4 linked regions of the Homo sapiens genome follow. Each later gene encodes a partner of the first gene's protein in a complex. Each region holds a gene or a part of one and is shown on either strand. Other genes may lie near its edges. The genes, in order: RBM48, SNRPF, SNRPE and SNRNP40.

Evidence for each region.
Region 2: RBM48 (region 1) and SNRPF share a complex: the UniProt entries of both Homo sapiens proteins name them as parts of the minor spliceosome.
Region 3: RBM48 (region 1) and SNRPE share a complex: the UniProt entries of both Homo sapiens proteins name them as parts of the minor spliceosome.
Region 4: RBM48 (region 1) and SNRNP40 share a complex: the UniProt entries of both Homo sapiens proteins name them as parts of the minor spliceosome.

Annotation. Positions count from the first base shown.
Region 1 is NC_000007.14:92,524,907-92,531,829, forward strand, and holds the start of RBM48 (RNA-binding protein 48), read left to right. Parts: upstream 1-3,888; 5' UTR 3,889-3,907; coding exon 3,908-4,018; intron 4,019-4,569; coding exon 4,570-4,760; intron 4,761-6,923. Other genes in the region: peroxisomal ATPase PEX1, read right to left, coding at 3,401-3,529. UniProt on the Homo sapiens protein: As a component of the minor spliceosome, involved in the splicing of U12-type introns in pre-mRNAs.
Region 2 is NC_000012.12:95,861,924-95,866,647, reverse strand, and holds the end of SNRPF (small nuclear ribonucleoprotein F), read right to left. Parts: intron 1,325-4,724; coding exon 1,260-1,324; intron 644-1,259; coding exon 577-643; 3' UTR 508-576; downstream 1-507. UniProt on the Homo sapiens protein: Plays a role in pre-mRNA splicing as a core component of the spliceosomal U1, U2, U4 and U5 small nuclear ribonucleoproteins (snRNPs), the building blocks of the spliceosome.
Region 3 is NC_000001.11:203,864,567-203,871,601, forward strand, and holds the end of SNRPE (small nuclear ribonucleoprotein E), read left to right. Parts: intron 1-474; coding exon 475-553; intron 554-5,310; coding exon 5,311-5,366; 3' UTR 5,367-6,586; downstream 6,587-7,035. UniProt on the Homo sapiens protein: Plays a role in pre-mRNA splicing as a core component of the spliceosomal U1, U2, U4 and U5 small nuclear ribonucleoproteins (snRNPs), the building blocks of the spliceosome.
Region 4 is NC_000001.11:31,259,061-31,265,816, reverse strand, and holds the end of SNRNP40 (U5 small nuclear ribonucleoprotein 40 kDa protein), read left to right. Parts: intron 1-4,184; coding exon 4,185-4,288; intron 4,289-5,695; coding exon 5,696-5,745; 3' UTR 5,746-6,249; downstream 6,250-6,756. UniProt on the Homo sapiens protein: Required for pre-mRNA splicing as component of the activated spliceosome. Component of the U5 small nuclear ribonucleoprotein (snRNP) complex and the U4/U6-U5 tri-snRNP complex, building blocks of the spliceosome.

The sequences.
Region 1 (6,923 bases):
AAATTCTACTTCATATGAAGAAACTTAAGAGATGGAAATATGAAAGATGCCCTGAAATATCAAAAAAGGAAACTCTACCAGCTCACTGAAAAAAGGAAAAATGAACCTTATTGAGGAGGAAAAATACTTCTAATTATTTATTTGGTCAAAAAGTAGTAACCAGCTCCATAAAGCCACAATATGTGCTCAGTTATATTGAGCAAACTCTGCAGACCAATGTTCTAAGTTAATTTTTATGTCAAAATACTTCACTTGAACCACAGAGCCCTGGCTATTCAGGTAAAGAGAAGAAAGAGACAGCTAGAAAGGAGCGTCTTTTCCAGGAGTCAAATCAAATCAATCAATTAATTGACCTTCTTTGACCCAAACTGAGGTATCAGTATTACCAGGAAATCTGCAGGTAAAACCATACATCAGAATGCCTTAGGAATAATCAGGTCCAAAGCCTAGGGTATCTCTTGCTAACACAAGGGAAATGAAAATTGTGTGGCCATATCCGAATGGTGATTTAGGTTCGTTTGCATTCACTGTGTATATGAATCCTCTCCCCCTGCTGCAATCACATCAAGTTCTGAGTACAGAGAAGATAACTTAGTTGAAGCGGTGGTTCTCAACCAGAGGTGATTTTGTCCTTCAGTAGACATCTGACAATGTCTGAAGACCTTTTTGGTTGTCACAGATAGGGGGAGGCAGTACAGGCGTCTACTGGATAGAGGCCAAGGGTGCTGTTAAACATCTTAAAATGTACAGGAGAGCCCCCAAAACAAAAAATTATCCAGCTCAAAATGTCAACAGTGCCAAGGTTGAGAAATCCTGACTTAAAGCATCTACTGGGTAGTCAGTCCTGAAATAATGACTTGAGTAAACAAGAGAATACAATACTTGAAACACAGTACAGAGTATATCAAATGTGATGTGTCACATAACACAACAGAGAAGTATTGAAAGGGAGACAAATGTGGGCAACAGAGAATTGGAAAGCTATGTGGAGGAGGTAGGATTATTCCTTTTTAAAGACATGGAATTTGTATGGAAGGAAGAAAAATGACTGAGGGAAGAATGGCATGAGTAAGAGAACAGAAGTGGGAAGGAGATTGGTTATAGAAGAAACAGTGAGAACGGTAGGTTGGGTGATGCAGAGTGAGCTATAGACAAGAGGGCAAATTAGCTGCATGGCAATGGTACTGGCCTAGGAATGCCAGTTTCCTTACATGTAAAAGTACAGAAACGACCTAGATGCTTAAGGTCTCTATCGTCATTAAAATTCTATGATTCTAGGACAGTAGGTCTCAACTCTTTTGTGCATCCAAGTAGCCTGAATAAATTTTTTAAAATTAGAGATGCCTAAAGCCTATTCCCTAAGATTTTAGGTCTGATTTAATAGGTCTGAGGGTTGATCAGAACATCTGTATTCTTAAAAGCTTCAAGGTAAGTCTGACATAGGCCAGAAAACCATTGTTCCAACCCTTCTTCCCATTACTGCATGATCTGTATTATGCACTCAATGCTTCACCCCAAATAAAGTAATTCAAGTATTAACTCCCAACTTGTGAATCTTTCTGCTTTCATAATTATCTATGGCCTCTAACCCAAGAATTCTGGGAATCTATCCTAGACAACCAGAAATAAAATGATGTTTTCTAAACAAAGATGTGTTATTTTCAACGTCTGATTAAAATATAGTTTATCACTTCTAATGCCTAAAAATTAAGTACAATCTAAATGGTCAATCATAGTAAACAATTAAATAAATTATGGCAAATTTGTGCTAGAATACTAATTAACAACTTAAAATGATGACCTTTTAACAAAATAAAACACTCATAATAACATTAAATAAAAACACCAGGACACAAAACTGTACGTGTGTATACAGGACCTCATTTATGTTAAAAATAAAGATTAGAAACAAAACTGGAAGATTTGATCCAAACTGTCAACATTAGTCACCTCTAAGTTCTGGGATTATGGGTAACTTATTTTCTTGTTAATAATTTTCCATGCTTTCCAAATTTTCTATAAAACATAAATTCTATAAATTTATATAATTCATCGAGGAATAAATGTATAGATTTATGGAATCTATAAAGTAATAAACTTATTACATTGATAATTAGAAAGTAAAGTTGACCTATTCTGCTAATATGGGCTGAACAGAAACAGCAATTTGTTCCAGGGCTAAAGACATTTACATTTCAAAAAGATATGCATGAATTAATTCTTATAAGTACTTCCCGAAGGCTCAAAATTTAAAACAAAGATCAAGACCACTAAATTCTTAAACAGTGATGAATGTAAGGTAACAACTACATCTTAGGATCAAATTAGAGTTACTGTAAGAAAGCATTCCTACTATTAAGTGCAGATTTGAAAACATGTTGAAAAATCCCATCGAAGCTGACAGAGCACTGAACCAACTTCTACCTGGAACTTGGTGACAGTGACTGATTTGTCTCTAGCCATAAAGCCCATCAAAAACCAAAAGATTGTCTACTTAGTGGTAAAAAATAATAACGACGATGATAGGAGGATTCTGCTGAACTCATGTTTTCAGTGGACCAAAAATATCTTCCCCTAGGTATGGGGAAGTAACTCAAGTGGAAAGAAGGGATGCTTGAAATTATTGCAAACTCTATTCATTGCATAGATTAGCCACTGGTGGGTACCATGCATCCAGGATTTATGAGGATTTCAAATACGCCGTCCTTTTGCCCCCATAAGTACACTCAAACTCGTGAGACCATGTGCCTCTATTTTTAATTATGAAAATATGGACGCTGTATCTCCACCAGTGGTTAGAACTGTGAAACATCCTAACCACAACGTCCAGAAGGGCGACTGATCGCAGAGCTTCAAGTGATCTTAACTACGTTATGTGTTCCTAACACACTACAGCTGTGTTCCGCGTCAGCGACGCAGGGCAGAACCATCATTGTATTAACCTTTCCCGCTCATGGGACGCGGTGCTTAGTCCCCGGGAACCGACAGGGGCTCCGCCAACAACTCTGCGTCCCGCTCTCGCGGCCCGGACGGCAGCAGCGCAGGTTAACTGGAAATGGCTGGCAAGGAAAACACCTTTTAAAATAATAAAAACAAACCACTTCTCAGGAGCTTTTCCAGCCTGGAATAAGGAATATTTATAAAAACAGTGGTAGAATATTAGGACGTTTCTAGGTTCAGTTTCACCAAGTGAAAAGACCTGGGATAAGACGAGCCCAGGGCTGCACTGGACTTGTGGGATCCAGAGACTACCCAGAAGGGCCCTGCCGTCGAGGGACCCTGATCTCTGCGCGCTTCGGCGGCGCCCGGGTGGCAGCCGGTGTCCCGCCGCGTCCCTGAGAGGCTTCGGCCTCGTCCGACCCCAGGCTGAAGATCAGGTGGCTCGGGGCCGGCAGGTTACCTGCAGCAGATGCAGCTGGGCCACGAGACGCCGCGGCAGGTGGAGGAAGCAGTCGCGAGCGTTGGTGAAGGCCACAGTCACTGCCGCCCCGCCTCCCCCAGCACCCGCCAGGCGATCGCTGCCCCACATCGTCCCGGAGCGTCGCTCTGGGTTCGCCCACCCTAGCGCCGCAAAGGACCCGGGACCCGGCAGGCCGAGGACGTCGGAGCCGGAGGAGATCGATCGGCCCCGCCCCCTGCGGCCCCGCCCCCTCTCCCCGCTGCGCATCCTGCCGTAAGCCTGTAGTGGGTGGGACAAGAAAGCTTCTGTCACCCACCGCGCCTCTCCGCCGAGCCGCTCGGGGGCGGCACCTCGTTCATCAAATCTTCGCACGCAGGAAACGATGGCCGACGCTGTCGATTCTCCAGCCAATCCTGGCACTCCTTAACTCATCCCGCTCTCTTATTGGATAAAAGGGAGCTCAGTAGGGCGGATGTTGTCCTCCCTGCGAGGATCAAAGTAGGCAAGATGGCGTCGAGCGGCGGGGAGCTAGGGAGTTTATTTGATCACCACGTCCAGAGGGCGGTATGCGACACACGGGCCAAATATCGAGAGGGACGACGGCCTCGTGCTGTGAAGGTAAAGTGATTTTGGTTTCATTCGCTCTCCTCGGTAGCTTTATGTGAGTGCTAGCGCCATATGACCAGCCTACGGAAATAAAGGCACGACAAGGCTTCCGTCAGATCTGTCTCTCGTTAGAGCTGGCGTGAAGAACCCTCGGTCAGTTACCAAAGATTCTCACGACGCCTTTGGTCAAGTATTAGAACATCAACTCCACGAGAATAGGCCTTGGTTTTAGTCATTGGATCTTCTGTGTTTACAGTACTACTTGGCACAGGTAAGCACTCAGTGAATATTCGTTGAGTGATTGTTCCCAGTGACTTCTACCGACTCAATTTCTGGAAAAAAATGTCGACTGAAGGTAGTCTGTTATATGCCTTAGGTAGCCTCTCACATGGACTGTTATTCTTTATGCAGAAGGAATGGCAGAAATTTCATTTTGTGTTCTTTTGCTGACTGGGTTGAACAGATTATTTCTTGTTTTCAAAGTTCTCTTTAAAAAAAAATAGAGGCAGATTCGTCCTAGGCTTATTTGCGAAATACGTTTAATAACTCTGCATTTCTTTCAGGTATATACAATCAATTTGGAATCTCAGTACTTATTAATACAAGGAGTTCCTGCTGTGGGAGTCATGAAGGAATTAGTTGAGCGATTCGCTTTATATGGTGCAATTGAACAGTACAATGCTCTAGATGAATACCCAGCAGAAGACTTTACTGAAGTTTATCTTATTAAATTTATGAACTTACAAAGTGCAAGGTAATGTGCAAGTTAAGAAATGACTCATTTCCTCATTTCTTCCATTCATATTTCTGTCATTTTGGCCCCAAGTTTCCCTCATTCATAACTGAATTACCCCAAAACGTAATCTAGCATATCTTCCTCCAGCCTTTTTAAAAGTTAACTTTACTGAAACACTGTATCCATCACATCATTCCCATGCTTAACAATTTAATGTCCTGTAGCTTGGTAGAGTAGAAGTTGGGTTTGGCCAGGCACGGTGGCTCACGCCTGCAATCCCAGCACTCTGGGAGACCGAGGTGGGCGGATCACGAGGTCAGGAGTTTGAGACCAGCCTGGCCAACATGGTGAAACCCCCCTCTCTACTAAAAATACAAAATTAGCTGGGTCTAGTGGCGCAGGCCTGTAATCCCAGCTACTCGGGAGGCTGAGGCAGGAGAATCGCTTGAAACCGGGAGGCAGAGGTTGCAGTGAGCCGAGATTGCGCCATTGCACTCCAGACAGGGCAACAAGAGGGAAGCTCTGCCTCAAAAAAAAAAAAAAAAAAAAAATTTGGGTTTGAAGCCTGGGCGTGGTGACTCACGCCTGTAATCCCAGCACTTTGGGAGACCGAGGCAGGCAGATCACTTGAGGTCAGGGGTTCAAGACAAGCCTGGCCAACATGATGGAAACCCCTCCTCTACTAAAAATACAAAAATTAGCCGGGTGTGGTGGTGCGGACCTGTAGTCCCAGCTACTCAGGTGGCTGAGGCATGGGAATTGCTTGAACCTGGGAGGTGGAGATTGCAGTGAGCAGAGATCATGCCACTGCCCTCCAGCCTAGATGACAGAGCAAGGCTCTGTCTCAAAAAAAAAAAAAAATTCTGGTTTGACGCCAGGCACGTGGCTCACACCTGTAATCCCAGCACTTTGGGAGGTCGAGGTAGGTGGATCACCTGAGGTCAGGAGTTCAAGACCAGTCTGGCCAACATGGTGAAACCCTCACTCTACTAAATACAAAAATTAGCCGGCTGTGTTGGTGCAAACCTTTAATCCCAGCTCCTGGGGAGGCTGAGGCACAAGTATCACTTGAACCCAGAAAGTGGAGGTTGCAGTGAGCCAAGATCATGCCATTGCACTCCAGCCTGGGCAAGAGTGAGACTGTCTCAAAAAAAAAAAAAGAAAAAGTTGGATTTGATCCCAGCACTTTGGAAGGCCAAGGTAGGCAGATTGCTTGAGCCCAGGAGTTCGAGACCAGACTGGCCAACATGGCCAGTATTTTGTATTTTGTAAAAATACAAAAATCAAGCTGGGTGTGTTGGTGCATTCCTGTAGTTCCAGCTACTTGGGAGGCCGAGGTAGGAGAATCAGTTGAGCCCAGGAGGTGGAGGTTGCAGTGAGTCTTATGGGCCACTACACTCCATCCTGGGTGATGGAGTGAGACTCTGTCTCAAAAGAAAAAAAAAGTTGGGTTTGGAGTAAGTTTTCCATTTCCACTGCTTACTAGCTTCATGATCTTGGGCAAGTTATTTAACCTGTTTAAGTTTTTCCTCTTCCATAAAATCTGTATGGTAAAGGGACCTATCTACTTCTTGGGGTTGTATGAGGATGAAATGAGATAATCCATATAAAGGTGTATCCTGGTCAGAATACAGTAAACATTAGCTATTGTGGTTTCTACTGTTACTCCTTTCTGCAAACTGACTCAGTTTTTTCCAGCCTTCTATGTGACATAATCCTCTGCTCCAAAAAGGCTGAAGTATGCAGTGCCTTATCTATTTTTATATTGATCTCTGTTCTCCTCACTAATCTGCTCTGAGACCCATCCTTCTCTGGCTATTACAATTCATATTTTCTTTCTTGTGCTATCAGTAGAACTCATAGTCTACCACAAAAGCACTTGATTTTACTGGGTCTTGTGTGGTTTTCTCAGGCTGCTGTTATATGTAATTTCACTTTCTTAACCAACCTGCCAGCTCCCATGGTTAGGGAAACATTTTCTAGAGCTTTTCTGTTTTCTATAGTACGTAGTCTGGTAGGCTCTGAAGTAAGACATCTGGATTTGAATCCTTGCTCCTCAAACCAGACTATGAGCATGGCTAAGTTACATAATGTCCCAGTGCTTCAGTTTCATTACAGTGTTGTTTTTAGGTGTTAATTCAAGTGAAGCGCTTATGACATTGCCTGGCATATGGTGAAATC
Region 2 (4,724 bases), on another chromosome or scaffold:
TCTTCAGTGAACAAACCGTATGCCTTCAGCCTGAATGTCAGTTCCCAATTTCTGTTGTGCCCTGTCTGTACAATCATTTTAATTTTTAGAAGATGCTTCAATTTTAGCTGCAATATGTGCATTTAGCTTATATTGACACAGAATTAACATGTAATTTATTGACTACTAAGTAAAATAAGACAGTATATTATTAATACCAAGAAAATGTTTAATTTTATACGTTAAAAGTAGCTCAAAAATAACTTTAAAAGAAAAAGTTGCATTTAAAAGGTCTCAGCTAATAGATAATTTTACAAGAAAAGGTCTGAAATTCACCTTCATAAAAATATCTAAAGCATATAAATAATTATCCTTTATGGGAAAAAAAAGAATATTGGGCTTACAAAAGAAAAGCAACTTAAATGAAATTCAGTGGCTTTTAAAGCATTAGTTCAGTGAGTAATCTTTCCCAATTGGTTCATCATTTCAGCTTTGCTTGTAAATATCTGAATACAAATAGTTCACAAGTCAAGTTGAAAAACAAACAAATCTTTATTGTCTAGAAATATATATAAAAAAAATCCCCCACAAAAGATGCTATTCTCTCATTTCCCCATCTTCTTCCTCTTCTTCCACACCTCTGATATAAAGGACATTATTACACCTGTAAATAGAAAAAGTCGATTTTGTTGTTCCAACCAGAAACCATGTATGATATGAATTACTATATTTTTATTATGAAAATACTGAATACTATATTTATAATATTCTTGTCTTTAAAAAAATTTTTTAAATATATTCATTTTAAAAAAAAGTTTCACATAGATTTGTTGAAAAGCACATGGCACTTATTTTCCACCATATGGTTGTTATAAAATGACATCTTTATGATTTTCCAAAGGAAATAATTACCAGAATTTGGAGCTTTGAAGCTAGTACAGAAAATCAATATAACAAAACAGCCAGACCCAACTAAAATTCAAAACTAAGTTCCCGCAACAAAGGCCACTGCAAAAGGTTGCCACTGCAAAAGATTATAGCTAAGAGCTAGAAAATTAAACATCAACACTAGAAAAATCTTTTGGCCAGTTCCAAAACATTTGAAAACTTACCTTTGACAAGTTTAACAATTTCAAAGACTTCTGAAGTCTAACTGTAAAGTATTATAATAGTGATTTTTTAAAAAAAAGTAATTCCAAAATTGAGGCACTAATATATTTAGAACAGGTATTCCTAATGCTCACCAGTAACTCCTTACATATACTACTGCTGTTTGTTACCTTATTAAAACTTCACCCAGATGTCCAGACAAAGCTCCATCTATGTATTCTTCTGTATTTGCAAGCTTTCAATAAAAAGAAATATATTAGTATAATCACACAGGAGGAAAATATTACAATACAGCTAATATTGGTGAGAGAACTCATTAACTGAGACCTTTCTATACCAACAACTCAAATTTATCTATAATTAATAAACAGAAGATGAGCTTTCTATTACTATTGTAGTACTTTTGGTTTCATATAAACCTTCAACGAAATTAATATTCAAAGCTTGTTTCAACATAAGTTTCTGAATCTCCCAGGTTATGTAATATTTCTTTCTATTAGATATTAAAACAGTGTGTGGAAGAAGGCAGTCTCTAACTCATATTGAGGTGTCCAAATAGGTATACGAAAGCTATGGCTAACATGCCAAATACTTTTATATTAGTCAACAACCAAAGCAAATAATTGAGTAAGAATTTTCTTCTTTTCCTGTCTTTTAAGAAACAGGGTCTCCCTCTGTTGCCCAGGCTGGAATGCAGTGGCACAATCATAGCTGACCAAAACCTTGAACACCTGGGCTCCTCCTGCCTCAATCTCCTGAGCAGCTAGGACTAAAGGCATGTGCCACAAAGCCTGGCTACTTCGAAACAATTTTTTCTGTAGAGATGAGATCTTGCTATATTGCCCAAGCTGGTCTTGAATTTCTGCCTTCAAGTGATCCTCCTGCCTTGGCCTCCCAAAGTGCTGGGATTACAGGCATAAGCTATCACATCTGGGCCTGAATAAGAATTTTTAATTATGTACTAATAAACAGGGAAAAACAAGTTCTTAAGAGAAAGGTAAATAGTTAACAGTGACCTTTACAGCTATTTTGGTGAACTACAGCAAAGTAGTGTGTTTCCCTTATGGTATTATTATGAATCGAATGTCTGAGCTCTTCTTACTTTACCTACAGTTATTTTGGTGAATTATTTCTAATTTTATATCAAAATGTTTAGCTTTCCTTCTACATATAGGTAACAAGCTCTACTTGTAATTAAAAGAAAAATCACAATCAATGCCACTTGGGACTCAGAGAAGGAACTAAGGAGTGATGGGAGAGAGGGAGGTTTCCTTCACAATTAGGCACGTGGAAAAGGAAAAGAAAAATAGGGCTTAACAATAAGGATTAAAATAGGATGTTTCATAAGGCATGAAAAACATGGTAATGAACACTACTACTGGATGTTACTCCCTTTCTTATAGACAACAAAAAGTAATCTCCATTATCCAGATGATATAGTTTTGTCTGAAATATACGAGGTTGTTGAGACAGTTTGTATGTAACAGCTATAAGAAATAATGTATTAAGAGCAACTAATTTTTTGTAAAAAGTAATTACAACATTTAACATTTCTAAATTACACAATAATGTTCCAAATACTTTCTATCATGTTCTTCACCATCACTTAACAGGCTCTCTATGGCCGCCATTTTAACCTAACTTTCTGTCATTCGTCCCTTAACTCAATCTGCTCTGGCCTTTTTGCTGTGCCTTGAACACACCAAGCATGCTTCTGCCACAGGGCCTTTGTACTTGCTGTTCCCTCAAACTGGGATGCTTTTCCCCAGATACTCAACTGAGTTGTACACTAATTCTGGTATCTTCCAGAATTCGCCTCCTCAGAGAGGCTACTCTATATAATATTGCACATACTGTCTTCCCCCTTTTCTTCATGGATGGCATCTATCATGCCTATTATCACATTATATTACCACCTCCCACCACTAAACCATAAACTGTTGAGGGCAGGGACTTTGTTTTGTTCAATGCTATATTCACAGTGCCAGGCACATAATGGAATTCAATAAATATTTGCTGAGTGAACAAATTCAAACACTGGTATCAATATGGTTGACTACTCAAAGTGGTTGGTTACTCAGACATTTTGCAACTCTAGCAGGGTCACTAGCAAGCTATATTAATTCTAAAACAAATATTAAGTGGTAATTCTTTTATTATTGAGATGTTAATTTCCATAGCATAAAATTCACCCTTTTAAAGTGTACAATTCAGTGGTTTTCAGTATATTCAAAAACCTGTGCAACTATCACCACTACTTCCAGAATATTTTCATCACAATTCATATACTTCCCAGATTTTTCTATGGTCTTGGTAAATGACTCCTGTTTAAGGAATTTTCCACACTCAAACTATGCTTTGGGGGCCTTAATGTCATGTGCTCAGGTGGTAATTGCCTAAGTTAAGGAAAATCATAGCTCTCTGCCTACTTAAGTACTCCTTTTAGTACTCTGCTTACAAGTATGGAATCCTTGGATTCATGATTGGATTGACCACCTGTCTTGATAGCCTTTAAAAACCTGCCTGGAAACTACTACCATTAAAAAAACAACAAAAAATCCCAAACTAATTTTTTAAATGTGCAAAAGACATGAACAGGCATTTCTCCAAAGATAAACAAATGGCCAATAAACACATGAAAAGGTGCTCAACATCATTAGCCAAATGCAAATCAAAACCACAATAAGATACCACTTCACACCCATTAGAATAACTATTTTATAAACACCCATAGAAAATAACAAGTGTTGGTGAGGATGTGGAGAAACTGGAACCGTTGTGCATTGCTGGTGGGTATGTAAAACCACGTAGCTGCTGTGGAAAATAGTGTGACAGTTACTCAAAAGAAAAAAAAAAATTTCTCTGTCATCCAGGCTAGAGTGCAGTGATCACAGCTCACTGCAGCTTCAACCTCCCCAGGCTCAGGTAATCCTCCCAACTCAGCTTCCTGAGTAGCTGGGAATATAGCTGCCCACACCATCATGCCTAGCTAGTTTTTGTATTTTTTTTGTAGAGATGCAGTTTCACTATGTTGCCCAGGCTGGTCTCAAACTCCTGGGCTCAAGCAATCTGCTGCCTCAGCCTCCCAAAGTGCTGGGATTACAGGCATGAGCCACCACGCTTGGCCTCCTTAAAAAATTAAACATAGAATTACCAGTAATCCAGTAATTCCACTTCTGGGTATATACCCCAAAGAGCTGAAAGCAGTGACTGGAACAGACATTCGTATACCCATGTTCACAGCAGCATTATTTACTACAGTCCAAAGAGGGAAGCAACCCAGTGTCCACCAAGAGGCAAATGGATTAGAATGTGGTATATCCATATAATGGAATATTATTCAGTCATAAAAAGGAAATTCTGACACATGCTACAACATGGATGAACCTTGAATAATACACTACGTTAAGTCAAACAAGCCAGACACAAAAGGATAATACACAATTCCACTTACATGAGGTATTATGCACGGTCAAATTCATAGACATGTAGACTAGTGGTTACCAGGGGTTAGTTAGGTGGAGGAAGGAATGGAAAATTATTGTTTAATGTTTAATTGTAAAATTATTGTTTAATGGAAAATTATTGTTTAATGGGCAAAAAATTTCACTTTTGGATGGTAAACAAGTTCCAGA
Region 3 (7,035 bases), on another chromosome or scaffold:
ACCAGGTCCAGCTAATTTTTAAATATTTTGCTGGGCAAGGTGGCTCACGCCTGTAATCCTAGCACTTAGGGAGGCCGAGCATGATGAATCACTTTAGCTCCAGAGTTCGAGACCAGCCTGGGCAACATGATGAAACCCTGTTTCTACCAAAAATACAAAAAGTAGCCAGGCATGGTGGTGCGCCCTGTAGTTCCAGCTACTTGGGGGGAGCTGAGGCAGAAGAATTGCTTGAACCCAGGAGGTCCAGCTGCAGTAAGCCGAGGTTGCACCACTGCACTCTAGCCTGGAAGACAAAGTGAGATCCTTTCTCAAAAAAAAAAAAAAAAAAAAAAAAACTTTGGGTGGAAGGTGGGGTGGGGCTTGAGAAGAGTGAATCTTTGAAGTTAGTTGGAGTTTTTATCTGCATAGGTATACTCATTTAAAATGGTTTGAATGTGATTTTCTTTGAAGATAACAGTTTGTTTATTTTTCTAGGGTTTTGATGAGTATATGAACCTTGTATTAGATGATGCAGAAGAGATTCATTCTAAAACAAAGTCAAGAAAACAACTGGGTAAGGATAGAAGTGGTCTTACAGAATTCTAGAAATATTTTATTCACTTGCAGAATTCAGTGACCTGCAACTCAGTTCATGTTTGAATTTATTTTGCATTTGAGAAGTTATTATTCAGAGTAGTAGTACACTTTTGAAATCATCCTCTACTACTCACTCCTCACCACACTCCATTTTGGCTTCTCCACCCAGAGAGCTCTCACCAAGGGAACCAAAGACTAGTGGTATTAAATCTAATGATCAGTACTAATCCTCATTTTATTAAACTCTCAACAGCATTTGGCACTGTTGGCTGCTCCCTCCTTAAAGCGCTTTGTTCCCGTGTCTGAGTGGCAGGAAAAACCCAAGTAGATTTTTCTGTTTCCTCAGTTGACAATAATTAACACAGAAGACTTCTGTGACCAGATGTATGGGCATATTTCCCCACACACCAAGCAAGCAATCAGTTCGGCAGTGGACATCAGCTCAGAGTCGTCAAGTTCAGTTCAGTTCTAACACTATCTACCTGAGATAGCGTCAGTTCCCAGAGGTTGAGGGCTCAATCCCCAAGATTGCCTTCCATGCCCCTCAGTCCTCCACCAGATGCTAATTGTCAGCTCCAGATTGTTTTACCTGTGCTTCTTACTGACTGGCTATAAACTGGGTCCCATGACCCCTCCGTTGGTTTGATTAATTTGCTAGAGCAGCTCACAGAACTCGGGGAAACACTTGTATTTACTGGTCTGTTATAAAGGATATTACAAAAAGTACAGATGAAGAGATGCGTAGGGCAAGGCATATAGGAAGGGATGCGAAGCTTTTGTGCCCTCTGCAAGCTCACCACTCTGGGAACCTCCACATGTTGAGCTATCAGAACCCCATTGTTTTCAGTTTTTATGTAAGCTTCATTATGTAGGCATGACTGATTAAATTGGCCGTTGGTGATCAGCTTAACCTTCAGCTCCTTTCCTCCTCCCCGGGTGGGAGGGTGGGGCTGAAAGTCCGACATCACTAATGCCTTGGTCCTTTCAGTGAGCAGCTCCCATGCTGAAACGTTGTAGGGGCTGCTGGCCATCAGTCAATCATTAGCATACAAAAAGGCAACATCTTAGAGATTCTAAGGATTTTAGGAGTTGTATGGGATTGAAGACCAAGTAAATATTTTGCAGTATCACACCTTGGCTCTACGATATTATACTTGGGTTTTTATTTTTCACTTCTGGCTATTTTTCAGACTTATATATTCATTCTTGGGACCCAATCACTAAATGAGTTGCTCCAGGCTTGGTTCTAGGCCCTCCTGTCATTCAGTATTGTCTGCCTAGGCACTGGAGTACAGCTTCAGTTACCATCTATAAATACTGACTCCCAAATTTGTTTGTCTGGGCCTATTCACCATTTCTACTTGAATGTTTCAAAGGCTTCTTAAAGTCAGCATATCAGAAAGCAAACTCAATTCCAACTCACACTGTTTAGAGCTATTGTATTATTATTTCCTGCCTTATTGAATGGCACCAGTTTCCAGTTCAGCTTACTAATTGATTTCTCTGCAGCTACCTCCAGTTTGCTTTCCAGGCCTCACTCATCTTTTAAAAACACCAGTCTGAACATATGTCATCCCTTTGCTTGAAATACTGCAATGACTTCCTGTTGCTGTTAGGATAAAAAAAAATCTAATGATTCTGCAAATCTAATGATCTTCATGATCTAGTCTTATCTCCCTCTGCTCATCTCGTATCACTGCCTCACTTTCTGAGCTTTAGCAACACTTGTCTTATTTCAGTTCTTTGAATCTGCAGATTTGCCCAACCATTAATCTTTGTATATGATATTCCTTGTGTCTGTAGAGCTCAGATCAAATATCACTTCTTTTAAGACAGCGGTCCCCTAGGCCAGGTGCAGTGGCTCACACCTGTAATCCCAGCACTTTGGGAGGCCGAGGCGGGTGGATTACGAGGTCAGGAATTCAAGACCATCCTGGCTAACATGGTGAAACCCTGTCTTTCCTGAAAAAAAAAAAAAAAAAAAAAAATTAGCTGGGCATGGTGGCGGGTGCCTGTAGTTCCAGCTACTCGGGAGGCTGAGGCAGGAGAATGGCGCGAACCTGGGAGGCGGAGCTTGCAGTGAGCTGAGATCACGCCACTGCGCTCCAGCCTGGGCGACACAGCGAGACTCTGTCTCAAAAAAAAAAAAAAAAACAGTGGTCCCCAACCATTTTGGCACCAGGGACCGGTTTTGTGGAAGACAATTTTTCTGTGGACTGGGGTGTGGGGGATGGCTTTCGGATGATTCAGGCACATTACATTTATAGTGCACTTTATTATTATTACATTGTAATATATAATGAAATAATTATACAACTCACCATCATGTAGAATCAGTGGGAGCCCTGAGCCTGTTTTCCCACAACTAGACAGTCCCATCTGGGGGTGATGGGAGACAGTGACAGATCATCAGGCATTAGGTTCTCATAAGGAGTGCGCAACCTAGATCCCTCTTTGCCCGGTTCACAATAGGTTTTGCGCTCCTATGAGAATCTAAGGCTTCCACTGATATGACAGGAGGCAGAGCCCAGGCGGGAATACTAGTGATGGGGAGTGGCTGTAAATACAGATGAAGCTCCGCCACCTCGCCCACTGCTCACCTCTTGCTGTGTGACCCAGTTTCTAACAGGGACCAGGACTGGTACTGGTCTGTGGCCCAGGGGTTAGGAAGCCCTGCTCTAAAAAGTTCAAAGTTTAATTTGGTTTTGCTGGGGATGGGGGAAGGCGGGATTATGTGCTCCCTGAGTTTGTAGTAAAACCTTTATTATTGAAATTATTTTATTAGTGTCTCTCCTGTTATCAGATGCTTCACCGTAAGTGTATGAGTCATGCCTTTTTTGATCCCAGTGTGCTCAGTACCTAACTCAATGCCTGGCACATAATAGAAACTAAAAAATATTTGAACAATGAATGGTATTTCTTTCTTTTGTTTTTGGAGACAGAGTCTCTGTCGCTCAGGCTGGAGTGTAATGACGTGATTTTGGCTCACTGCAACCTCTGCCTCCCAGGTTCAAGCAATTCTCCTGCCTTAGACTCCCAAGTAGCTGGGACTACAGGCGTGTACCACCACGCCTGGCTGATTTTTTGTGTTTTAGTAGAGACGGGGTTTCACTGTGTTGCCCAGGCTGGTCTCTAACTTCTGAGCTCAGGCAATCCACCTGCCTCGGCCTCCCAAATGCTGGGATTACATGTGTGAGCCACTAAGCCTGGCAATGAATGGTATTTCTTAACCCAGTTAATGAATGGTCTTAGGATTCACGGTTTCATCAAGACACACTGAATCATTTCTGTTAACATCCCATTCACTTGAGGTTTATTTAGGCATTTTGTCTTTATTTGTTAAATGCTCACTAATACTTTTATCAGTGGTGGGTTTCAGGTGTCTCTCTTTCAGACCCTCAGGATTCTCTTCAACCTGAACTAGATATATGGAAAGTAGATTCTGAGAAGCAGTATGGTGTTTCGCTGGCTGCTTCCTGCTTAGACTATTTTTATGAAAGCCTGGGTTTTTTAGATTTATTGTTATTTATTTATTTATTTTTTTGGAGACGGAGTCTCACTCTGTCTCCCAGGCTTGAGTGCCATGGCACAATCTCAGCTCACTGCAACCTCCACCTCCTGGGTTCAAGCGATTCTCCTGCCTCAGCCTCCCAAGTAACTGGGATTACAGGGCATGCCACCACACCTGGCTAATTTTTTGTATTTTAGTAGAAGACGGGGTGTCACCGTGTTGTCCAGGCTGGTCTCGAATCCTAAGCTCAGGCATTCCACCCACCTTGGCCTCCCAAAGTGCTGGGATTATAGGTGTGAGCCACCATACCCAGCCGGGTTTTTTAGATTTAAAGATGTCTTGCCAGGACGGGCAAGCTTAGCCTTACTGAGGTCATATTATTCATAAATTATTTACCAACTGTTGAATTCCCATGGTAGTATTTATCCTGTAGAATAGAATGTTATTAATACCTGCAGAAGCCTGGGAAAGTAGAACAGTTTAATTACTGTTGGAGTTGATCAACGTGTCTCAAACCGTTCTACCAGTGAACACCAGTGTTCCTGAAGATGTTTATAAATTTCTCAGAAAAGTATTGTCTTAAATAACCTTAGGAAATTTTGGGTAAAACAGGTTTGTTTATTGTAGGATGGAGTCTTTTTTTTTTTTTTTTTTTTTTTTTTTTTTTTTTGGAGATGAATTTTGCTCTTGTTGCCCAGGCTGGAGTGCAATGGTGCCATCTTGGCTCACTGCAACCTCCGCCTCCCGGATTCAAGCAATTCTCCTGCCTCAGCCTCCCAAGTAGCTGGGATTACAGGCACGCGCCACCAGGCTCTGCTAATTTTGTATTTTTAGTAGAGATAGGGTGGAGTCTTTAATATACTAACAGCTTTAAGAATGGAGTTATAATATGCTGTATTTCCCAAACTTGACATACGACTCATTTCCAAACTTTTATTACAAATTCAGCATTGGGAAATGTTGTATGAGGCCTATTGAGTTGACTTAGTCCATAGAAATGATATTTGTCATGAAATGTCATCTACCTATGTTAGTCTCTTGAAAAGATAAATGTATTCTAATGGAGCCAGAAAGCCTTTCACTATATGGACACTTGAAAATGTTCACATATTTTTATAAGAAAGCATTTTCAAAATATTGTTCAAAAACTGGATACAAAATTCTGAGAGTAAAACATCTGAGTGTGTGGCTATTAATAGCTTTTTGTTGTTTTTGTGTTGCAGGTCGGATCATGCTAAAAGGAGATAATATTACTCTGCTACAAAGTGTCTCCAACTAGAAATGATCAATGAAGTGAGAAATTGTTGAGAAGGATACAGTTTGTTTTTAGATGTCCTTTGTCCAATGTGAACATTTATTCATATTGTTTTGATTACCCTCGTGTTACTACAAGATGGCAATAAATACTATGGGATTGTTTGTATTAAAAAATTTACATTGCTTCTTACTATTCAGCAGTAGAAACTTTTTACACAGTAACACCATTCGTTGCTGGTATTTAGTTTTCTGAAGGGTCGCAGTTGCCTTGAGCACTTGGTATTCGCAGAGCTTGGACCTGTAGATTTTGAGGCAGATTAGGAATTCTGCCTGATGGGTAAGCTTCCAGTATTGGGAGGTGGAGAAGGGGAGGGTTCAGAAAAATAAATAAGAGTTATTGCACTAACAAAAGTCTTCATCACTTGTAGTTCTGGATGCTGGAATACCAGAGTTTCTAACCTAAATATGTTGGGTACATTATTTAATGGGGTCAGTATTGCTCAACACTCTCATTGAGTCACTGTGAGGTCTTTGTGAATTTTATCGCTAAGATCAGAATGTGAGAAGTATTTGGATATAGGGAAAGAATGAAGTGCCTTTCAAGTACATTAAAAATCAGTTAAGAGTTTACAGGAAAGAGACTGAGATTGGTAATCTGAAAAGGACCACAAGCATAGCTGGTAGGCAAATTGTTAGGCAGAATAATGGTATGTTGGAGAAATACACCTGTCTCTTATTCTTATCTCTTAAGAATTTTGGTTCTTCCCCCAGTGATTGCTGGTTGAATTCTTATATGGACAGGTTTCCCTTCCCCCAGTATCGCACATGGTTCTAGTTAGAATCCTGTTAGATAGTGAGCATCTGCTGTTAGCTAGACACTGTTGAATCAATACAGTGAAACAGACAGGTAAGCAGGTGGTTTTAATGCCTCATTCTAAGTGCTATTTAAATTGGATCTTGAAAGATGAATAAGGCCTGCCTTAAGTTCTGCTAAAGGCCATGTTGTTATTAAGGACGGGTGAGGAAGGACCAAGAAGTCTGGCTCCTGCTTTTCTACATGCCTGTGAAGGAGACTTTTCATGAAACTGAATAAAAGAAATCCTTTCCGAGATAGAGGAGATTTGTAGGTGAATGCAGAAGTGTATCCAGCTTTGAACCATGCATTCCATCTATATTCCTCCTGTCTGAACTCATGCTCTTTTGATTATGTTTTGAAATAAAGGGCTGCATTAGTTCTTTTAACATTTGAGTTTGAAATTAATTAAACTGATCACAACATGCAAAGAAAACATTGGGCAGCAGAGGGAGTTACAGCCCTGAGACTGCTTCAGCCCTGCTGGTGAGAAGATTGAATTGAAGCTTTTTCAGAGCAGAGCAAAGACCTCCCTGCAGCTTTCTTGGCACCAGAATAGCTGGGAAGAAGGATAAAAGCCCAGAGGAGTATAATCTCTAAGAAAACCTGCTGGCTGCCTTTTCCATTTCCCTGTGTGGCCTTTCTGACCTGGCTGCCCTGTGGAAGCAGAGCTGTGCCTGCTGTGGCTTATTCTGAATGGATCAAGACATGGAAGGTTCTATTTTTGACAGAGCAAATGATGATAGTGAGAATTAAGGTACAGTGAACTCTTACAATTGAGCTCTGTATTTAGAAATCTCTGCTTGCTTTCCTGCTCTACTGGAGCCTGTGGTGTTTG
Region 4 (6,756 bases), on another chromosome or scaffold:
CCAGGCTGGAGTGCAGTGGTGCAATCTCTGCTCACTACAAGCTCCACCTCCTGGGTTTACACCATTCTCCTGCCTCAGACTCCCGAGTAGCTGGGACTACAGGTGCCCGCTACCACGCCTGGCTAGTTTTTTGTATTTTTAGTAGAGATGGAGTTTCACCGTGTTAGCCAGAATGATCTCAATCTCCTGACCTCATGATCCGCCTGCCTCGGCCTCCCAAAGTGCTGGGATTACAGTCATGAACCACTGCACCCAGCTGTAATTAAATTTTTAAATTATATTTACATACTTTTTTTTTCTGATGAGCAGTTTGTTTCTGGCATTGGCCCTTTCTGAATTGCAATGTCCTTTTTTTCTCTTTTCCTCTCCACTGTTCCTTTAAACTTTACATGTGGTCAATGGTGCACACCTTTAATCCCAACACTCTGAGAGGCTGAGGTGGAAGGATGGCTTGAACCCAAGAGTTCAAGACCAGCCTGGGCAAGATGGCAGGACCCTGTCTCTATAAAAAAAATATTTAAAAAATTAGCCAGGCATAGTAGTGTGCACCTGTAGTCCCAGCTACTTGGTAGGCTGAGGCAGAAGGACCCCATGAGCCCAGGAGTTTGAGGATATAGTGAGCTGCAATCATGCCACTGCTCTCCAGCCTGGGCAACAGAGCAAGACCCCATCTCTTTAAAAAAAAACAAAATCACATGTGAAAGCGTGGTATGAGGAAAGCCTATCCCTCTCTACCTGCTGGGGGTTGGCAAGATTTGACAGGCCACCTCACCAATTGGCCCCAAGTCAAGAAGCAGCTGTGTTACATAAGGCTTCTGGTTCCTGCCAAATGTTGCCATGCCAAAGTAAGGAGAGGGCAAGGAACCCCTCTAAATTTAGCATCTAATTGGCAGCCATCAAGAGTGAGACCTTGAAGTGTAAACCCTTGGAGATCTGGGATTCTGTCTTTTATGTGCCTGGGAAATGTATCCTCAGAAAACTCCTTTTCAGCTTGGCCTGGATTTGGCAAACTTCTCCTTTCTACTAACTAATAACTTACAGATCACCTCCTCATATTCAAACTTGAAACTCTGAATAGTCCTATAGGCTACGGGAAGGCTGACCAGTCTCTCGGCCAAGAGTGATTTATTCAGCCCATTGACTTCATGAGATTCTGTTTTGATGATGAGTGTACTTATAATAACAATAGCTATAATTAATTCTGTGTGCCAGGCACTTTGCATATATTACCTCATTATTTTTCTCAACAAAGTTATGAGATCAATATTTTCTCCATCATTGTAACTAAGAAGCTTAGAGAAGTTAAATGATCTGCAATTATTTAACTTCTCTGAGCTAAGCTTACTTAGCTAGTAAATAGCTGCACTGAGACTTGAACCCCAGTCTTTCTGACTCCAGAGCTCATACTCTTTCACTATGCCATACTGCCCTTTATTGAATTAATGAGGACCAGCTTTTTGTGCATGACAAGAAAGAAGACAGTAGGAAGGGCATGAGTATCAGAGCCATGGAGTCTAGACAGATGGAGTTCCTGCTTCTCTTCCATCTTGTTCAGAACTTACTTTCTATGGAGCCTAGCTGATGACAGCTAAATAGTATAATTAAGAAGCTCTTGTTTATTTGCATTTTTGACCAAAAGTGTAAGTTGGATTAGAACTAGGCATTTTATAATCCAGTACTGGTGAATGTACCATTTTTATGATCAAGTACTGGTGAGTTGTTGATTGCACAAAACAAAATATGTAAATAATTTTAAATACCTGCTTCAAAACTACCAGCCCTTTATATTTACCAACAGATGAATTTTACATCATCAGATTAAGATAATAGCTCTATACTTTACCCTTTAATGACTTAAGCAAGATTGAGGGTCAAAGGAACTTTTTTTTTTTTTTTTTTTTTTAGCCAGTACATTTATGGAGGGTAAGTGAAAGTAAAATACGAGAGTATATTAAGAGCTCCAGAGTCTTGGGTTCAGCTCTGTAGTTTCTGTGGCTACTGAAGAGGTGGTCAGGAACATAGGAACCCCCTGCTGGGCTCCTGGTCACTTCTGTCTGCTCCATGGCAGGAAACCTTCAGCACAGGACATCAAGGCAAGCTTGAATAAGAAAAACAATTTCTTCTTCCTAAGCCATATCATATCAGTTATACAGAAGTACTACTTTGGGACACAGTCTTCAGGAGAGCCTAGATGAGCTCATAAAATCTCAGCAGTTCACTCAACTTGCCCTTCAAGTTTTACTTCAGTTTGATAAGGCTATAAAGTCATCATTGGCTCAGAGGATTAGGAACAGAGTTGATTTCAGGGGCTCTCTAAATACATACAGATTGTGCCATATGCCACGCATGGTGGCTCATGCCCGTCATCCCAGCACTTTGGGAGGTGAAGGCAGGAGGATTGCTTGACGCGAGGAGTTCAAGACCAGCCTTAACAACATAGGAAGACACTGTCTCTACAAAAAAAAAAAAAAAAAATTAATTGAGAAAAACAAAAAGATTCTGTGATAATATGTAGACTTTTGTGAAAATTATGGCCTGTGATGATAAAAATACTGGCTCTAATACTATAGAATGAATAAGGAAAAAATCACATTTTTATGACATCTTCTGTTATTATTCATCACTTTTGAAGAGAAATGTAGAAGTTTTTTTTTATTTATTCTAGCATTGCAGAAAGTACATTGTGTTATTTCAGTATTTCAGTAGTATTTCAGTAGTATTCAGAGTATTTCAGTAGAAAGAAGCTTAAAACTCTATAGCCTCTTACATTACCTTTATTATACAGCATGAAAAAAAACATAATTTTTTTTTTCTTGAGACAGGATCTCACTCTGTCACCCAGGCTGGGGTGCAGTGGTGCCATCTCAGCTCACTGCAGCCTCTACGTGCTGGACTCAATCAGTCCTCCCACCTTGGCCTCCCAAGTAGCTGGGACCACAGGCATGCACCACTACACCTGGCTAATTTTTTTGTAGAGATGGGGTTTTACCATGTTGTCCAAGCTGGTCTCAAGCTCCTGAGCTCAAGCCTTGGCCCCCCAAAGTGCTAGGATTACAGATGTGAGCCACCATGCCCAGCCTCATAATTTTTTTTAATGACAAATAAAAATTTTGTCTTCCTAAGAACATTCTCTAATAAGCTCTTTTTTTTTGAAGAGTTCTAATTTTAGTTACGCCGTTGATGAACTGTATTGCCTTGGAAACGTCACTGTGCCCCAGTTTTCTTATCTCTAAAATAAGGAGTTTAGAGAAGCTGATTTCTTTTTTCTCCTCTTTTTTTTTTTTTTTTTTTTTTTGGAGATGGAGTCTCACTCTGTCACCCAGGCTAGAGGGCAGTGCCACGGTCTCAGCTCACTGCAACCTCCACCTCCCAGGTTCAGGCAATTCTCCTGCCTCAGCCTCCCGAGTAGTTGGGATTACAGGCACACGCTACCACTCCTGGCTAATTTTTTGTATTTTTAGTAGAGACTGGGTTTCACCTTGTTGGCCAGGCTGGTCTCAAACTCCAGACCTAAGACGATCCACGCACCTCGGCCTCCCAAAGTGTTGGGAGTACAGGCATGAGCCACCACTCCCAGCCTAGACAAGCTGATTTCTCTTGGCCCCTTCCCATTCTAGAATTCAGTATTCCTTCTGCCTGTTAATTCAATGGAAAAGTTGGCTCAAGTGAGTATTAGGTTAGCAAACACTATAAATATTTTATATACCAGACACTTCCTGTCCCTTCTCAGGTCTCTGTTTGAATACAGTACTAAAAAGTTCATCTGGATCAGCAGCCTAGGCTCCCACCCTGCCATGAGTTGGGTTACCTTTTAGATTTCCTGGATGAGTATGAAGTTAACTGTAGCCTAATTATACTAGACACTCTGAAAAAGGTTTTTGTGTGATGTCTGCAGGAAAAACTTTCTTTTCTTCCCTGTGGTGTTTCCCATTTCAGAAGCTTGTATTCAAACATGCCAGTCATGCTTATATTTTTAGTTATTCTTATTTCTCCACCCCATTGCTCAAGAGGTGAGTCCATGTCTTATTCAAACTCTGTGTTCCTAGTTTCTAAAAGCCAGAACATGGTTCAGTAAATGTAAGGTAAGTAAATAATTGTTGCTTCCATTTCCTTTAAAAAGCCATGCCTCTGTCCTACCCCCAGCTCTAAGAGGACTTACCCTTGCTTTTCATGATACCTTACAGGTTTGTTTATGTGTGGGATACCACAAGCAGGAGAATATTGTATAAGCTGCCCGGCCATGCTGGCTCCATCAATGAAGTGGCTTTCCACCCTGATGAGCCCATCAGTAAGTCTGTCCCAACGAGGGGGAAAGGGAAACTGGAAATCTCCCCGTAGGGATCCTGGGAATAGAGAGTCAAAAGCGGGTATCTGTTTTATACGAATTTCCATGCAAACAGCCTTTGGGTGTTTTTGTTGTTGTTGTTGTTGGTTTTTTTGTTGTTGGGTTTTGTTTTGTTTTGTTTTTGAGACAGTGTCTCGCTGTTTTGCCCAGGTTGGAGCAATGGTGCAATCTTGGCTCACTGCAACCTCTGCCTCCTGGGTTCAAGCAGTTCTCCTGCCTCAGCCTCCCAAGCAGCTGGGATTACAGGCACCCACCACCATGCCCAGCTAATTTTTTTTTTTTTTTGTATTTTTAGTAGAGACGGGGTTTCACCGCATTGGTCAGGGTGGTCACGAACTCCTGACGTCCAGTAATCCACCCGCCTCAGCCTCCCAAAGTGCTGGGATTACAGGTGTGAGCCACTGTGCCCAGCTGCAAACAGTCTTTATGTGGGTATCAATGTCAGTCTCACCATTGCTCATAAGTGGTGAGAGTAAGAGCAATGCTCCATTTTCTTCTTGATCTCAAAGGGAAGTTGGTAAGTCTAATTTTTTTTTAAATTTACTTCCATCAAGTCTGTTTCAATGATGTATTTGATTAAAAGAAAGATACTTTTTTTTTTTTTTTTTGAGACAGAGTCTCACTCTTGTCGCCCAGGCTGGAGTGCAGTGGCACGATCTCGGCTCACTGCAACCTCTGCCTTCCCAGGTTCAAGCGATTCTCCTGCCTCAGCCTCCCAAGTAGCTGGGACTACAGGCACCCACCACCACACCTGCCTAATTTTTGTGTTTTTAGTAGAGACGAGGTTTCACCATGTTGGCCAGGCTGGTCTCAAACTCCTGACCTCTGGTAATCCACCCGCCTCAGCTTCCCAAAGTGCTGGGATTACAGATGTGAGCCACTGCGCCCGGCCAAGAATGATACTTTTTAATATTTAGATATAAATTTCAGCTTAAAATTTTTTGGCTGGCTAAACCAAATAATTTCAGCCTTGAATTAAAGGAGAAACTGTAACTTTCTCCAGGGCTAAGTATAACAAGCAGAAGCACATTTACAAAATGACTGGCACAGCCATAGATTCCTCTCTTCTAGAATGACTGGGAAAGTCTTTTTCTTGGGGTTTGACTGACAAGGGATGTCAGTATTTAGTGTCTGATAATGTATTTCCCATAGTACAGTCATCCTCATGATATTAGAGGACTTGGATTGAAAAGCCAGGCTACAATTTCCTGTGGATGGTGTTTAGGAGGGGAATTTAAGCTAAGTCCAATTGCTCTTTTATACCAGAATTGGCTCTTGACACAAGAGCCCTTGAGCACCAAGTCTCCTTGAGCCTTCATTATTTCTAGTTATCTGTTCTTTTTACCTCAGTTATCTCAGCATCGAGTGACAAGAGACTGTATATGGGAGAGATTCAGTGAAGATATGGACTGGAAGACTCCAAGGCCGCTTGTCTTTGAGACCTCAGACTGCATAAGTGATGCCAAATGTTGGATGTCCAGGCTAGCACCCTCCCTTCAGATGACCATTGCTAGCAAGAAACAGGAGGCGGTGGCCATATTCCAAAAACCACTTCTGTCCCATTTCACCAGGATGACTAAGGCAAGCTCCCTGTGGCCTCTAAAAACCACCTGCCAGATTTCAGGGACTGTTTTTTTTTTTCTTTTTCTTTTTTCCTGTTTTCTAATGCAGGCCCAATGTGACAAATTTGTTGGTTGGGATTTTTTTTTTTTTTTTGTAACTGGCTTGTATGATATTTTCTTTCTGTATTTCTCTATATCATTTTGTATTAAAAGCCAAATAGATGCCTTTTTACAAGAGCCATGTGGATTGGATTTATTGCTGTCTTTTTTTTGAGGCTTGATTGCTATAAATCAGAATAGAGCATGATGTGGCCACAGAATACAATTCATTTAAACTTCCAAGAAGCTGCTCACTTGTTTTTTTTTCCCCCCTTTTCTGTGTTTTTAGGTTTACTTACTTCCATGAAAATGACAAAGAATAATTATCAGTAACAATACTTTTTTCCTACTAGAAGGATAGCAGCCAGGAGGTGATAAATAAGTTCTAAAAGAACCTGGTTTTGCCAGACGCGGTGGCTCATGCCTGTAATCCCAGCACTTTGGGAGGCCAAGGCAGGCGGATCACCTGAGGTCGGGAGTTCAAGACCAGCCTGGCCAACATGATGAAACCCCGTCTCTACTAAAAACACAAAAATTAGCTGGGTGTGGTGATGCACATCTGTAATCCCAGCTACTCGGGAGGCTGAGGCAAGAGACTCACTTGAACCTGGGAGGCGGAGGTTGCAGTGAGCTGAGATTGCGCCACTGTACTCCAGCCTGGGCGACAGAGCAAGACTCTGTCTCAAAAAAAAAAAAAAAAAAGAACCTGGTTTTGTGTACTTGCATCTGATCTTTAATGAACAGAGCCCG